Linked DNA regions of Homo sapiens: regions 2, 3 and 4 are each reported to be linked to region 1. The links are microRNA targets in miRTarBase. Many come from high-throughput screens and were not tested one by one. Region 1 holds a microRNA gene; each other region holds the end of a gene's coding sequence. Distances are from middle to middle.

Region 1 (3,083 bases):
GAGGAGGAGGAGGAGGGAAGATTAAATCTAAAATTATTAAGTATTCCTGAAAAAAGTCAAAGCTAGTTACCAGGATATTAAATAGATTCAATACAGCATCCAACCATTTAGGAAAGGTGATGCACTTGGGGCCTGAGGATATGATACTATCACATTTACGTGGTCATAAGGACCTTTGAAATTCAGATTAGGTCTGCTTATCAGCAGAGACTATTTCAGCACTAAATCTAATAAATATTCCAATCAGTGCAAAAGACCTCCTGTGTTCCATAGCTCATGTCACTAACTGCAGCAGCTTCTGTTGGGTACACCTTGGCATGATTCCAGCTGCCTTCCCAAGCCCATTTTAGCAGTTAGGTATCTATAAAAGGAGGTGGAAGATAAAGTGGGGAGGGGTGGGAAGGAGCAAGGAAAGATGAATTATGGGCGGAACATATAATAATAACTCGGCCACTTTATTTCTATTCCTTAAATGGAAAAACAAAATTTGATGCTTTTTGGTCTTCACATTTCTAAAAGCCATTATCAGATTTCATTTTTGAAATAAATTAACAGACAAAAAATATTTTGTTTTGTTCTGTGCCTCTGTTGTCTGAGTGCCCCTATAATAAGACATGCTTATCTGACAAACATCAGAGGAGCCATGCCCCTCTGAGAAACATCTTCACTGTTACTGAGATTTGGGTTTATTATAATGGGGTACTGGGCATTTTGCCCACTAACTATATAGTAAATATTTCTGTGATTAACCTGAGCCCCATACTAAATATACAAAAATTCAGTGGCTCCTTATTATTTGTGGATTCTACGTCCACAAATGTGGATTGCAATTGGAGATGCCTGATGGGCATGCACACGAGGATGTTCTGTTTCTTGTTTCTGCTCATAGAGTAAACAAGTGTCCGGGTGCGGTGGCTCACGCCTGTAATCCCAGCACTTTGGGAGGCCAAGAAGGGCGGATCAAGAGGTCAGGAGATTGAGACCATCCTGGCTAACACGGTGAAACCCCATCTCTACTAAAAATACAAAAAAAAAAAAAAATTAGCTGGGCGTGGTGGTGGACGCCTGTAGTCCCAGCTACTCGGGAGGCTGAGGCAGGAGAATGGCGTGAACCTGGGAGGCAGAGCTTGCTGTGAGCCAAGATGGCGCCACGCCTGGGCTACAGAGCGAGACTCCATCTCAAAAAAAAAAAAAAAAAAAAAAAAAAACGAGAGAGAAAACAAGTGTCCTATTTGCAGTTTGTTTGGTGCCACAGATTTTCTCATTTTTGTGCTTTTAGTTGGTAATTTTGCTGTTTAAAACAGCCTCCCGAGAATAATGTCAGTGTGCTACCTGGTATCCTAAGCACAAAGATGCTGTGCTGTGTCCTGTGCAGAAAATCCACGTGAGACAAGCTTTGTTTGGGTGCGAGTTACAGTGCTATTGGCCCTGAGTTCAATGTAAACCCATCAACGTTATAGGTAAAATAAAGTGTCTTTAAATAGATACATGCCTAAAACAAGGTTAGGTTGGTGCAAAAGTAATTGTGGTTTTTGTCATTAAAAAATTGCAAAAACCACGATCACTTTTGCACCACCCTAACATTTTTCTTCACTTCTCTTGACGCAAATTATAGATTCAATCACCCAGCACTTACAAGCAAGCATTTCTTTATCTTAGGTTGACCTTAAGAACTTCTTTGTATTTACTAACTTCCTTTAGGACTCCTCCTCTTTTGTAGTAAGACGGCAGGATGAAATACAATGAAGAGGGTACCATATTTTAAAGATAAGGCTGAATACCACACACCTGGCATGATGAGAGGCCTATACAGAAAAAAGAGCTTCTGAAGCTTCTCTATGCCACACAAGGGATGAAGGTGGCCTCCAACAACTGTGACCTCCAACCGGTGGAGCTCATGTGTGATATGCCTTTTATGTCCTTTAGCACATTTGTTACCCACAATAACTTTACAAGCCAAGTATTATTATCCACAATTGCTAGAAGAGGAAACCAAAGCTCCCTAAATGCTCAATATCATGCTCATCACTCTTTCAGCTCTGTATGGGATTCCCAAAGTGAACCTCATGTGTATTTATGAACTTGGCACTCTCGGATACCATGCAGCACCCCTCATTTTCTGTGAGCTCTGCTTGCTGAGGTGAAGACTCTGCTGCAAAGGGGCCCCTGGTCCTGTGAAGCTGGTCCCCCTGCTGTGCCTATTCTAAGGAATGGCCATTGCTGATGACATTTGCTGGTCTGTGCCCAGGCATGGTTTCCTGGCGCTGCAGAAGCCACTGGCTGGTAATCTGCCTATGGGTGTCCACAAACCCTCAAGTACAGAAATTTGCCATCCTTCAGTTTGACAGGCATTTTAATGGAATGCTCTTTCAGTGTATCTCCCTAGCATTCAGGTACGCGTTTCAGGGGCCAGGCTGGAGGGTGATCTAAGTGACAGGCATGGTACAATGGTAAATTTTGCCCATACCCTCAACACTGATCCTCTACTTCTAGGCCATACTAAGGTGGCTTTTAAAAATTAATATATGATAATAGTACCTATTTATGGGATACATGTGATATATGGATACATGCATATAATGGGTAATGATCAAAGCAGGGTATTTAGGATATGCACCACCTCAAACATTTATCATTTCTTTGTGTTGGGAACATCCCAAATATTCTTTTCTAGCCCTTTTGAAATACACAATACATTGTTGTTAACTATGGTCACCTGCTGTCCTATTGACCATTAGAACTTATTCCTTCCAGCTAACTGTATGTTTATAGCCATTAGCCAACCCCTCTTTATCCCACATCCCAGCCCTCCACACACACACACACACACACACACACACACACACACACACACACACACACACACACACCCTTCCCAGCCTCAGGTAGCCGTCATTATACTCTCTACCTCCATGAGATCAAATTTTTTAGCTTCCACGTGAGTGAGAACATGCAATACTTGTCTTTCGGTGCCTGGCTTATTTTTAACATAATGTCCCCCATGCTCATCCATGTTGCCGAAAATGGCAGGATTTTATTATTTTTATATCTGTTCTCTTATTAATAGTATAACTTCTTACAAC
Region 2 (3,083 bases), not on the chromosome of region 1:
TCTAGACAGTCATCATCAAAAACAGTGATGCTCGTGCAACCACTAGTGTCATATGAGAGGGGGGGAAGAAGTTAAAACACATCTAAAAGTAAATTTAATAGTTTTAAGTTAAAACTATAAACAAATTTTTAAGTTAAAACTGTGTATTGAAAATTGTCTGGATATTAGCATATTTACTGGCTGTCATACTCATACCTGCTGGGGTATGGCTATTTTTCTTTTTAAGATTTGGAGTCCTGAAGCCACAACAGCAGAGCTGATCAGGAAGAGGGAACTACGGCGAGAGAGGTTTACACATGAGGTGGACTTCGACGATTTTATGATGCCTTTTCAGAAGAACATCACAGAGAAAGCTCGAGCACTGGAAGCTGCCTTGAAGACCTAAGTCATAGCAGTTATTTCTTGGGGTAAATGCTTTGAGGCCCAGGGACCAATCTTTGGAGAAAGTAGATATTTCCATCAAAGCCAAAGCAATCCATACACCAAGAACTTGTTACCAAGAATTTCTTTTTGCTTTAACAACTATAAATATTCTTAGCTGTCTAGAGAAAAGATGTATGTTATTTTGAAATGAATGGTATGTCATTCTGGATAAATCCCCAAGCCCCTTTATGAATGTAGTGAAATACATGGCATGTGGGTTATAAACGTTGCTGTCAAAAGATTTACCAGGTCTACACCATTATGCTTATTATTTTTTTAATTATCCTTTTTATTTATTAAATAGAGACAGAGTCTCACTATATTGCCCCAGCTGGTCTCGAACTCTTGAGCTCAGGCAGTCCTCCCAACTTGGCCGTCGAAAGTGCTGGGATTATAGGCATGAGCTACTGTGCCCAGCCTGCTTATTGAAGATACATTTCTAGTGGAAATTGATGAAACAATTTAGGTTTTGGAAAAAGAAGTAATATTTAATCTTTTAAGGAAGGAGTTTATTTCTCACATGCCATTATAAACTATGTGTATTAGATACCTTGGGTTGAATACACTTTTAACAGCCCTAGATCGATAGCCCTAGCCCTAGATAGATAGCCCTAGCCCTAGATAGATAGCTATTAGGTTGGTGCAAAAGTAATTGTGGTTTTTGCCATAACCTTTAATTGCAGCAAAAACCGCAATTACTTTTGCTCCAACCTGACAGCTAGGTATCTAGCTAGCTAGAAAGGCAGATAGACAGATATATAGATGATAGATAGATAGATGATAGATAGATAGATAGATGATAGATAGATAGATAGATAGATAGATAGATAGATAGATAGAGATTTATTGCAAATAATTGGTTTACATAATTTTGGGCCCCAGATGGTTAAGTGCTAAATTTGTAGGGTAGGCTATCAGGAAGTGCAGGCTGGAAACATGCAGGAGCTGTCCCTGAAGTCCACAAGTGGAATTTCTTCTTCATCATGGAAACCTCAGTTTTGTTCATACACCTAAATACTTCAGTATGTCTTTCCTAAAATAAAAGGCATCCATTTACCTAACCAGATTACGATTGTGAAAATTTCAACTGTTGTTAAAGCGACTGATGGGATCAGTTTCACCTAGATTATCTAAAGCAGTCTCCTTTACATAAAGTCAATGAATTGTAAATATTGGTTGCATGTACACAATTCCTTCACCACAACACCTAAGATTAGTATTTGATTGAGTTACTGGGTGCTACAACCTAGCCAAGTTGAGTCATAAAACTGACCATCTCTGGAGGTGTACTCTGCAGTAAAAAGCTAGCTGAGGCATTATTCACACCAAGAAATGCAGTGGGTACCGAACAGGAGCTCCAAAAATATCCAACGTCTCATTGACAGAAAGAAGCCACTTTAGAATCTGCCTTACCAGAAGGCACCAATTGCAGATTACAGCTCTGTCAGTCACGTATGGATTAAACCCCTTTCCTCTAACCTCCTCCCTCTCTTTCCAACCTTGGAGGGACCTTCCACAGGAGCCAGTTAGGGAGGAGAAGGGAAGAGAGAGAATGAAGCAGGTAACCAGGCCCACCCCTCTGGAGGAGACAGACCTGAACAGGGGTTGCTTACAAGCATTGCATTTGGATCCCAAGATTTGCTATTACAACTAAATTTTGTCTGTTTTGTAAGGTTTTGGTTGGTTTTTTTGTTCTCTCTTTTCTTTTTGTTTTGACATAATTTCATATTTATGGAAAAGTTGCAATAATTTGACAAAGAATTCTTATATGCCCTTTACCCAGATTACCTAAATGTTAACCACTTACCACATTTGCTCTATCTCTTTCTCCCTCTACATATATGCATATGTATGTTTAATTTTTGTCCCCGAACTATCTGTGTGTCCGTTGAAGACATGATGAAGACATGATGTTCTTCACATGATGTTTTCATATTTGTGTGTCAGTTGAAGACATGATGTTTTAAATATTTCATTGTGTATTTCCTAAAATCACGATGTTCTTTTGCATAACAATATTACCATTGGCAAACTAAGGAAATTAACACTTAAGTGAACTATTTAATCTATAGACCTTATTCAGATTTTGCTATTTATCCCAATAATTTCCTTTGTACTCCCAGGTCATGAAATACATTCGCTTGCCCCATCTCTTTAGTCTCTTTTAGTTTAGAACAACCTGTATTTCTTGTTTGTTTGTTTGTTTGTTTGTTTATGACAGTATATAAGAAGAACACAAGCCACTTTTATCTTGTAAAATGTCTCTCAACTTTGGTTTGTCTTAAATGTCTTCAAGAATAGATTCAGGTGATGCTTTTGGGGCAGCAGTGCTACAGATGTCATTGCACCCTTCTCAGTACATCATATCAGGAGGCACATGATGTTGATACCTGATATAAACTTTAACTGCATTTGCAGTTGAGAGAAATGTAAATAAAAGTAAAGCTGCAGTAATAAATCATAACTGCATAAAATTAACTGTAGTACATACTGTACAACTGTAATAATTTCATAGCCACCTCCTGTTGCTATTGTGTTGAGTTCAATTGTTGTCTTTTCTCAAGCTTACTTTATTGCACAAATACAGTATTTATAACATACAAAATACGTGTTAATTGATTATGCTATGGGTAAGGCTTTTGGTCAACAGTAAGTTATTA
Region 3 (3,083 bases), 91 Mb from region 1:
TACTATAGAACTGTATAATAATACATTTCTCATTTGTTACCTTTCTAATGAACTATTCTGAGCAGTCTGAAGTAACTGACTGCACAGCCTTAGATTACCACTCAGGGTGGAACTCTTAACATTCACTTAAGTAATACCTACAAACGATTTTCCATTCAAGTTGATGGGTATCAATTCCCTGAATGCTAATAACAGAACTCAAGAAGCTTCCAACAAATGACAGGAAAAACAATTCTGACTTAATCCTATAGTTATCACTTAGACTCTTCAGTTTCACTTTCTTAAGAGTGACTCAAAAAGTTCCTTAGGCACACATACTAATAATCACAGTCCTGAAATTTTAAGGCCCTAACCAAAAAAATAAAACCTTTGAGAAATGGAAAATAAAATCATTCAAACAAATAAGCACACACACATAAACACGGTATATATTTCTTTAATCCTCCCTCAACACTTGAATTCATCTATGAAGTCCACCACAGCTCTAAAAATCTCTCTGAACTAGCCGCATTTCTATTATAATTAACAGATTTTAAGTCCTTTTTATTTAATGGAAGCATAAAACATTAACTATCTGTGCAAAGGGGTACTTTTGCACATTTATCCAGATTTGTTCTAAAAAGCACAATACATATTAAGCAAAAACTGGGCATTTGGGAAAATATTCATATAAATCTTAATGGCTACATAAGGAAGTATTATTAAAACAACCAACAAACAAATTGACATTAAGTCATTCCCAATTTGGACAGGGAGGACACATTATGGCAAAAATTAGATTTTGCTAAAAACATTTCAAACTTCACTGCAATTTTAATCATGTCCTCAATTTCGGCAAGCCTGTCTTCCAAACTTATGCTTTTAATAACTTGAATCCATGACAATTTTTCCTATTCTGATGATAAAAGAGCCAATACATTTTTATACAAAAGGATTTATTAAAAAACCAGTAAGACACTACTACATCATGACACTGTCACACTGGGCTTTTAACACAAGACTTGCTCTACAATACTGGGGGAAAGGGCATAAAACACAAATTGATTCTGAAGCATAGCAATTAAGAAATAAAACAATGAAAGCAAATTTCTTTTAATGAGAACTCAGAATTAAACTTCAGAGGGACCCAACGTCATACTTCCATTCAGGGACTTGATACAAAAAATTTAGTTTGAACTGCTATTAGCAGGTGGCAGGAGCCACCTTCAAATGAATCTTCAAATTGGAAAATACTGCTTCACCACCTGGAGACAAAGAAGAAAAAATAGAAGTCACTCTGGGCAGGCTACAACACTTAACAAAAATTTACATAAAACTGAGTTATCCCTATGTTCCACTATATGTAAATACTGTATAACATTAAATGTGTGATATGTTTTATAAATTAAAGCTGAACAGTAGAGTCCATGAGCTGTAAATCCACATGTGCACCACTGGTTTAAGATGTGATATGCTTTTACAAGTATTCTTTAAAATATAAAAAGCTTTAAAGTATTTACCCAAAGAACTCATAAAAAGGTCAATTTGGTAAAAGGACATTTTGACCCAAGAGCATCTAATATTTAAGCTTATTTTATTGGATAAGCATATCTCTTGTCCATCACAAGTTATAGAAAAGTTATATACGACTAAAAGAAAAAGTTATCTACTGTAATTATAGGAAGTTGTCACAACAGGAATTCAGCTCAAGAACTTCTTGCAATTACTGCTACAACGTCTATAAATGGGAAAAGCAAGCATTAAAATAGATTAATAAAATATAAAATTAAGACTGGAAAATCCAGAGACAAGCTGTATCCTTAGAAGAATAAATAGTTAAAATTATTCAGTAAGCTGACGTATTTAACCATTACTGGGCCTGTAAAAAATGCATTAAAATTACATTACAAATAGTTTTTAAAAAGCAAAGAAATAAGTGAAGGCAAAGCTTGAAGTATCCATTTTATTTTATAATGCTGATACAGGATGTTGGAAGAGACCATACCAAACGGCAGCATTCGAGAGCGTGAGCATCTCGTACCCTGTCCGCATTGAGCGGGCCTGTGAGAATCGTGAAGTCAGCGCGACACAGGGCCTGCAATGAAGTTCCCGCTGGCGGGTACAAACAAGGTATAATGTCAGAGTTAGTAGGCAATACTTTTTTGCTGCAATTCCTTAATTTGTACCCATTAGCAGTACTTTACCTGTTAACTTTACTGACTTGTTAATAATAGGACAAAAAGGCAAAAGCTTAAGAGCACCTGTGTTACATATCTTTGAAAGTCACTATGTTATAATATGGTAAGCACTTCTGGGTGCTGTGAAACTCTTAAATTAAGCATTGTTTTATGAACAATATAGATTATAAAAACTACTATTGTAAATGACAAAAAAAAACTATTTTTAGAACATACCTGTTGGGGATAAGTTGCAAATGGAATAATTTAGTATGGTTTGTAGCTATTTTGATGACCACCTCGCCTGGATACCTTCCCATAACCACTCTGCTGGTCTAAAATAAAACAAGTGTTAGAACCAGAACGGTAGTGGTTACATACTAATAATCAGAACAGTACCTAATTTTAAACAATCTCAAAAAATTAAGGGTAGCTTAATTCCCAAGTGTGAAAAATTCACCCTGAGCAATCATTTATCAAATAATTTACCAAATATGTAGTGAATGCATACAATGGCAGGCATTCAGAATGAGCTGATTACTTGACTTATTGTATAAAATGGGAGACAATCCCCTCACCCTTACAGTTTAAAAGTTTTAAGTTTCAAAGGATGGACAGCTGACCCTTTCACAACCACCAGCAAAAAATATCTTAAAATTTAGAACAAATTGTCAACCACAATCAGTGCTTAGTATCTCTGCCCTTCTAAGAAAAGGGCCCCAATCTCACCCAATCCATCTTTGCTGACCTTCTTCTGACTTTAATTAACCTATTATTGTGCAGCAGGCCTAGTCACCTAAGAAAGGATATAACTCCAAGAACTGGTCTAACCAAGGAAGGAAAAGAAAAACCACTTAAAACAATGCAACCAATGCAACCACTCTCCTCCAAAAAAATGTAAGATTGCTTCTAGTAGAACCCTTTACC
Region 4 (3,083 bases), not on the chromosome of region 1:
TCGAATGGCAGCCTGCAAACCTGAGTGGCCTCACCCTGGGGGACATCTGCTGATCTGATGTGGTGATGGACTAGATAAACTGCTATGACTGAGTGGGACTCCGGTCTTCCTTTTTAGGTGACATCCACCAGACTGCAATATGGTCCTACCTGGCACGGTTGATAAGGTTATAACGTTGATGGTGATGGCAAATGTATTGAAACCCTGAGTTCCAGCCTCCTCAGGATGTAGCAACGATGGAGAATGACACCTGCGGAAGAGCTAGGTGGAGCCAACCCCGGGCTAACGCCTGCACACGGTGGTTCTTTACATGCTTCATAGGCACGGGCAGCCCTGCCACAAGGGAGGAAGCAGGCAACGCTGAAGGAGCTGCCCAGACAAACGTGACTATTCCACTGCGAGAACGCTGGGGCCGGGGCCGGGGGTGGCCTGCAGGGTGAGCTCTCGGCCCCCAGAACGTCCTGGCTGGCACTGGAGTACCAGCGTTTTCAGGGGCTTTGCTGCCTCAGTTCTGACCTCTGCGAGGGACTGGAGACTTAGGGCCAGCCACGCTGACAGCCAGGTGGTCAAGCTCCCAGACACACCTGGACCCCAAAGGTGCCCTGTTCAGCTCTATTCTGTTGTGCTGCATCCTGAGGACACGGGAGCTCCGTGACTGGGCTCTCCTGGACTCTGCTCTAGAATTCATCAATGACTTTAACCTGCTTCCTTTCACCATAAACTGTCTGAGTCATGCAGGTGAATTAATGAGCCTGAGGGTGGATGTAAGGACCCCCAAACCTGTAGCCCATTGCTCAGACGTGAGGGTGGTCCTAGGGATGCCTGAGCTTGTTTCTGGTGTGCAGTTCTTGGTCTGCAGTGAGGGTAGTCTTGTAGGGGCTATTCCCTGAAGCTGCAGTTTGCCAAACTTGCCGGCATGGAATTCTAGAATCACCTTAGAAACTCTAAGGTCCGGAGAGAAGTTGTTCTCCAAGACCCTCCGTATGGATGCGCTGGGTGCCAAGTTCATTTTACTGGCTCGATGGCCTGTGCAGGAAGAACAGCTGGAGCCCCTGTTCACAGGGGAGACCAGTGAGGGGAGGCGAAGTCACTTGCCTGAGGTCCCAGAAGGAGTAACCGGGGCTGGGTAGGAGCAGGAACGGCTGCTGCCAGCCAGGGGTGTCCCTAACCTGCCTGTCCTGTTGAATGGAGCCTGTCACCTACTGGTTCCCGCTGGTGGGGACTGTGCACCACAAAGGTGCCGGATCTAGTTTTTCTGAAAATCAGCAAAATAGAAGGAACAGAGACAGCCCGGACAGGGACAGGGAAGACCTGGCTTCTGCTGCACCCTTGGGGATGGGGGCCGGCGAGGAGCAGGGACAGAGGGCCCCCACCGCAGGCTTCCGGCAAGAGGCTCCCAAACACCTGTCCTTTAGAAGCCTGAGCAAGTCGCCACCTCTTAACACTGAGAGAGTTTGTGTTGAGGAATGAGAACATCTGGCCATCCCGGGCCACGCGCCCAGAAGGCGGCCTTGCTGGAGCCAAGTGTAGGCGCCCCCTTCACACAGGGCATGTGCTGCCCAGCGCGCCCCGACAGGCCTGCTTCCCTCCACCCACAGTGAGAAACACTTTCTACCAAAAGCCAGAGCTAGCGTGCCCACGCATAGGTGCACACGCCCCATGTACTGTGGTTTGGTGAAGCAGTTCTTCTCTTTACAGGGTGTGAAGCACTCATATCTCATCTGCTCTATTCTACGTCATTTTAAAAGTGCTGGCTGCCGCCCCCTATATTTAACTCTAGACCCACGGAGCCCGAGCAGGGTCATCAGAGCTGGGTCCCGACACCTGCTCTGATGCTCGCTGTGGGCTGGGGGCACATCGCTTCCGCTCTCAGGGCCTCAGTTTCCCAGGTTCCTTCAGGCTCCTGCCCAGGTCTACTGCCTGACCTGACAGCTCAGCAACAGGGGCCAGGACAAGTTCTGGACAACATCCAAGTGACAGGCCATCAGTGGAGGTCTTCATGGGGGGAAGGCAGAGGAGGGAGGAGGGAGGAGGAAGGAGGAGGGAAAGCTGAAGTGGTAAAAGCAGAATAAAGAGCCTGGTCAGTGACTGATCACACTGGGGTGCCCTCATCCCAAAGTGAACTTCAGGTTCGGGGCTCGTTGAGAAGGACATCAAGGTCTTCATCAATGAATTGACATGCTGGCCAGGCCATAGAGCCCTGTGACATCTGGACAACGTTGTCAAACTCTGAACACTTTACAAAAGTAAAGGGACCAAGAGGCGTTTTCCTCTGTTACTTTATAACCCTTTCATACTAGTTGAACTTTTTTTTATATAATGTACATGTACTACTTTATAGTTAAACAAAAAACTTTAAAATGATTTTTTAAAAAAGAAAAGAATTAATCACAGTGGAACATGAAATGGAATGTCAACTTTGGGGACGGGTCATCCAGAGGAGTCCAAGAGCCCCAACATGGTCGCGTGTCTCTGGTCCTCAGGTCATCACCCAGCCTCACCCACAGGGCACCCGCCACGGCCGTGGCCCACCGTGCAAGCTTCCACTTGGTGCCTGCGTGGGAACGCACCACCTGCCGTGGAACTTCCTCCTGCGGGGCAGAGGAGGGGTCCAGAAGCCACAGGAGTCAAGTCAGCAAAATTAAGTTAATTTACAAAGTTATAGTAAAAACCACAATAGTGACCCAGTCCCTCCCACGCAGTGTGAGCCCTGGGCTGCGCCACACCCGCAGGTGGCCCGTGCTGGCACCTCACAGGGCAAAGGTGGTGAAGAAGATGTGCATCTTGGCCAGGAAGGTGGTGACGGAGCCCTGCCTCCAGAGCTTCATCTCCACGTCCAGGGCAAAGTCCCGGGGCTCCAGCACGGCCCGCTGCAGGTAGACCACACCCGTGTAGGCATTGAGCCTGCGCGTGCCAAAGTAGCCCTCCTCATTGCCCTTGATGATGTTCAGGGCGATGGTGTCCCCCGTGAAGGCTGGCGCGGGGCCAATGCGGAAGATATGCGCAGGCACCAGGAGGCCCGTCTGGAAGTTGAGCTGGTAGTGCGTGATGCGCGCTGGCGAGTTCTGGCACTCCAGGAAGTC

The links. The annotated mature microRNA hsa-miR-548aa reads AAAAACCACAAUUACUUUUGCACCA and lies in region 1 at 1,510-1,534, opposite strand. An mRNA with a match to its seed (bases 2 to 7 or 8) in the 3' UTR can be bound and repressed. Matches are read on the target gene's strand: a 7mer-m8 pairs with bases 2 to 8, a 7mer-A1 pairs with bases 2 to 7 and ends in A, and an 8mer does both.
Region 2: miRTarBase lists ANKEF1 as a target of hsa-miR-548aa. Seed matches in the 3' UTR shown: 7mer-m8 at 1,079-1,085 and 7mer-m8 at 2,105-2,111.
Region 3: miRTarBase lists HNRNPD as a target of hsa-miR-548aa. Seed matches in the 3' UTR shown: 7mer-m8 at 943-949 and 7mer-A1 at 362-368.
Region 4: the mRNA of FBLN2 is a reported target of hsa-miR-548aa. Seed matches in the 3' UTR shown: 7mer-m8 at 2,668-2,674.

The regions. Positions count from the first base shown.
Region 1 is chr4:173,266,656-173,269,738 of GRCh38, reverse strand. MIR548T (microRNA 548t) reads right to left here and starts at 1,579; the gene lies at 1,506-1,579. The region is part of intron 2 of GALNT7 (polypeptide N-acetylgalactosaminyltransferase 7); the gene reads right to left. It overlaps LOC124900812 (a long non-coding RNA gene), which reads left to right. Exons shown (of 3, transcript XR_007058367.1): 2 at 1-3,083.
Region 2 is chr20:10,055,276-10,058,358 of GRCh38, forward strand. ANKEF1 (ankyrin repeat and EF-hand domain containing 1) reads left to right here. Exons shown (of 11, transcript NM_022096.6): 11 at 227-3,028. The coding sequence ends at 385. The region is part of intron 3 of SNAP25-AS1 (SNAP25 antisense RNA 1); the gene reads right to left. Among named protein-coding and RNA genes, the nearest start is that of ANKEF1, 22 kb to the left of the region's middle.
Region 3 is chr4:82,352,911-82,355,993 of GRCh38, forward strand. It overlaps HNRNPD (heterogeneous nuclear ribonucleoprotein D), which reads right to left. Exons shown (of 9, transcript NM_031370.3): 8 at 2,394-2,491; 9 at 1-1,244. The coding sequence ends at 2,424. Among named protein-coding and RNA genes, the nearest start is that of HNRNPD, 20 kb to the right of the region's middle.
Region 4 is chr3:13,637,587-13,640,669 of GRCh38, reverse strand. It overlaps FBLN2 (fibulin 2), which reads right to left. Exons shown (of 18, transcript NM_001004019.2): 18 at 2,266-3,083. The coding sequence ends at 2,751. Among named protein-coding and RNA genes, the nearest start is that of LINC00620, 12 kb to the left of the region's middle.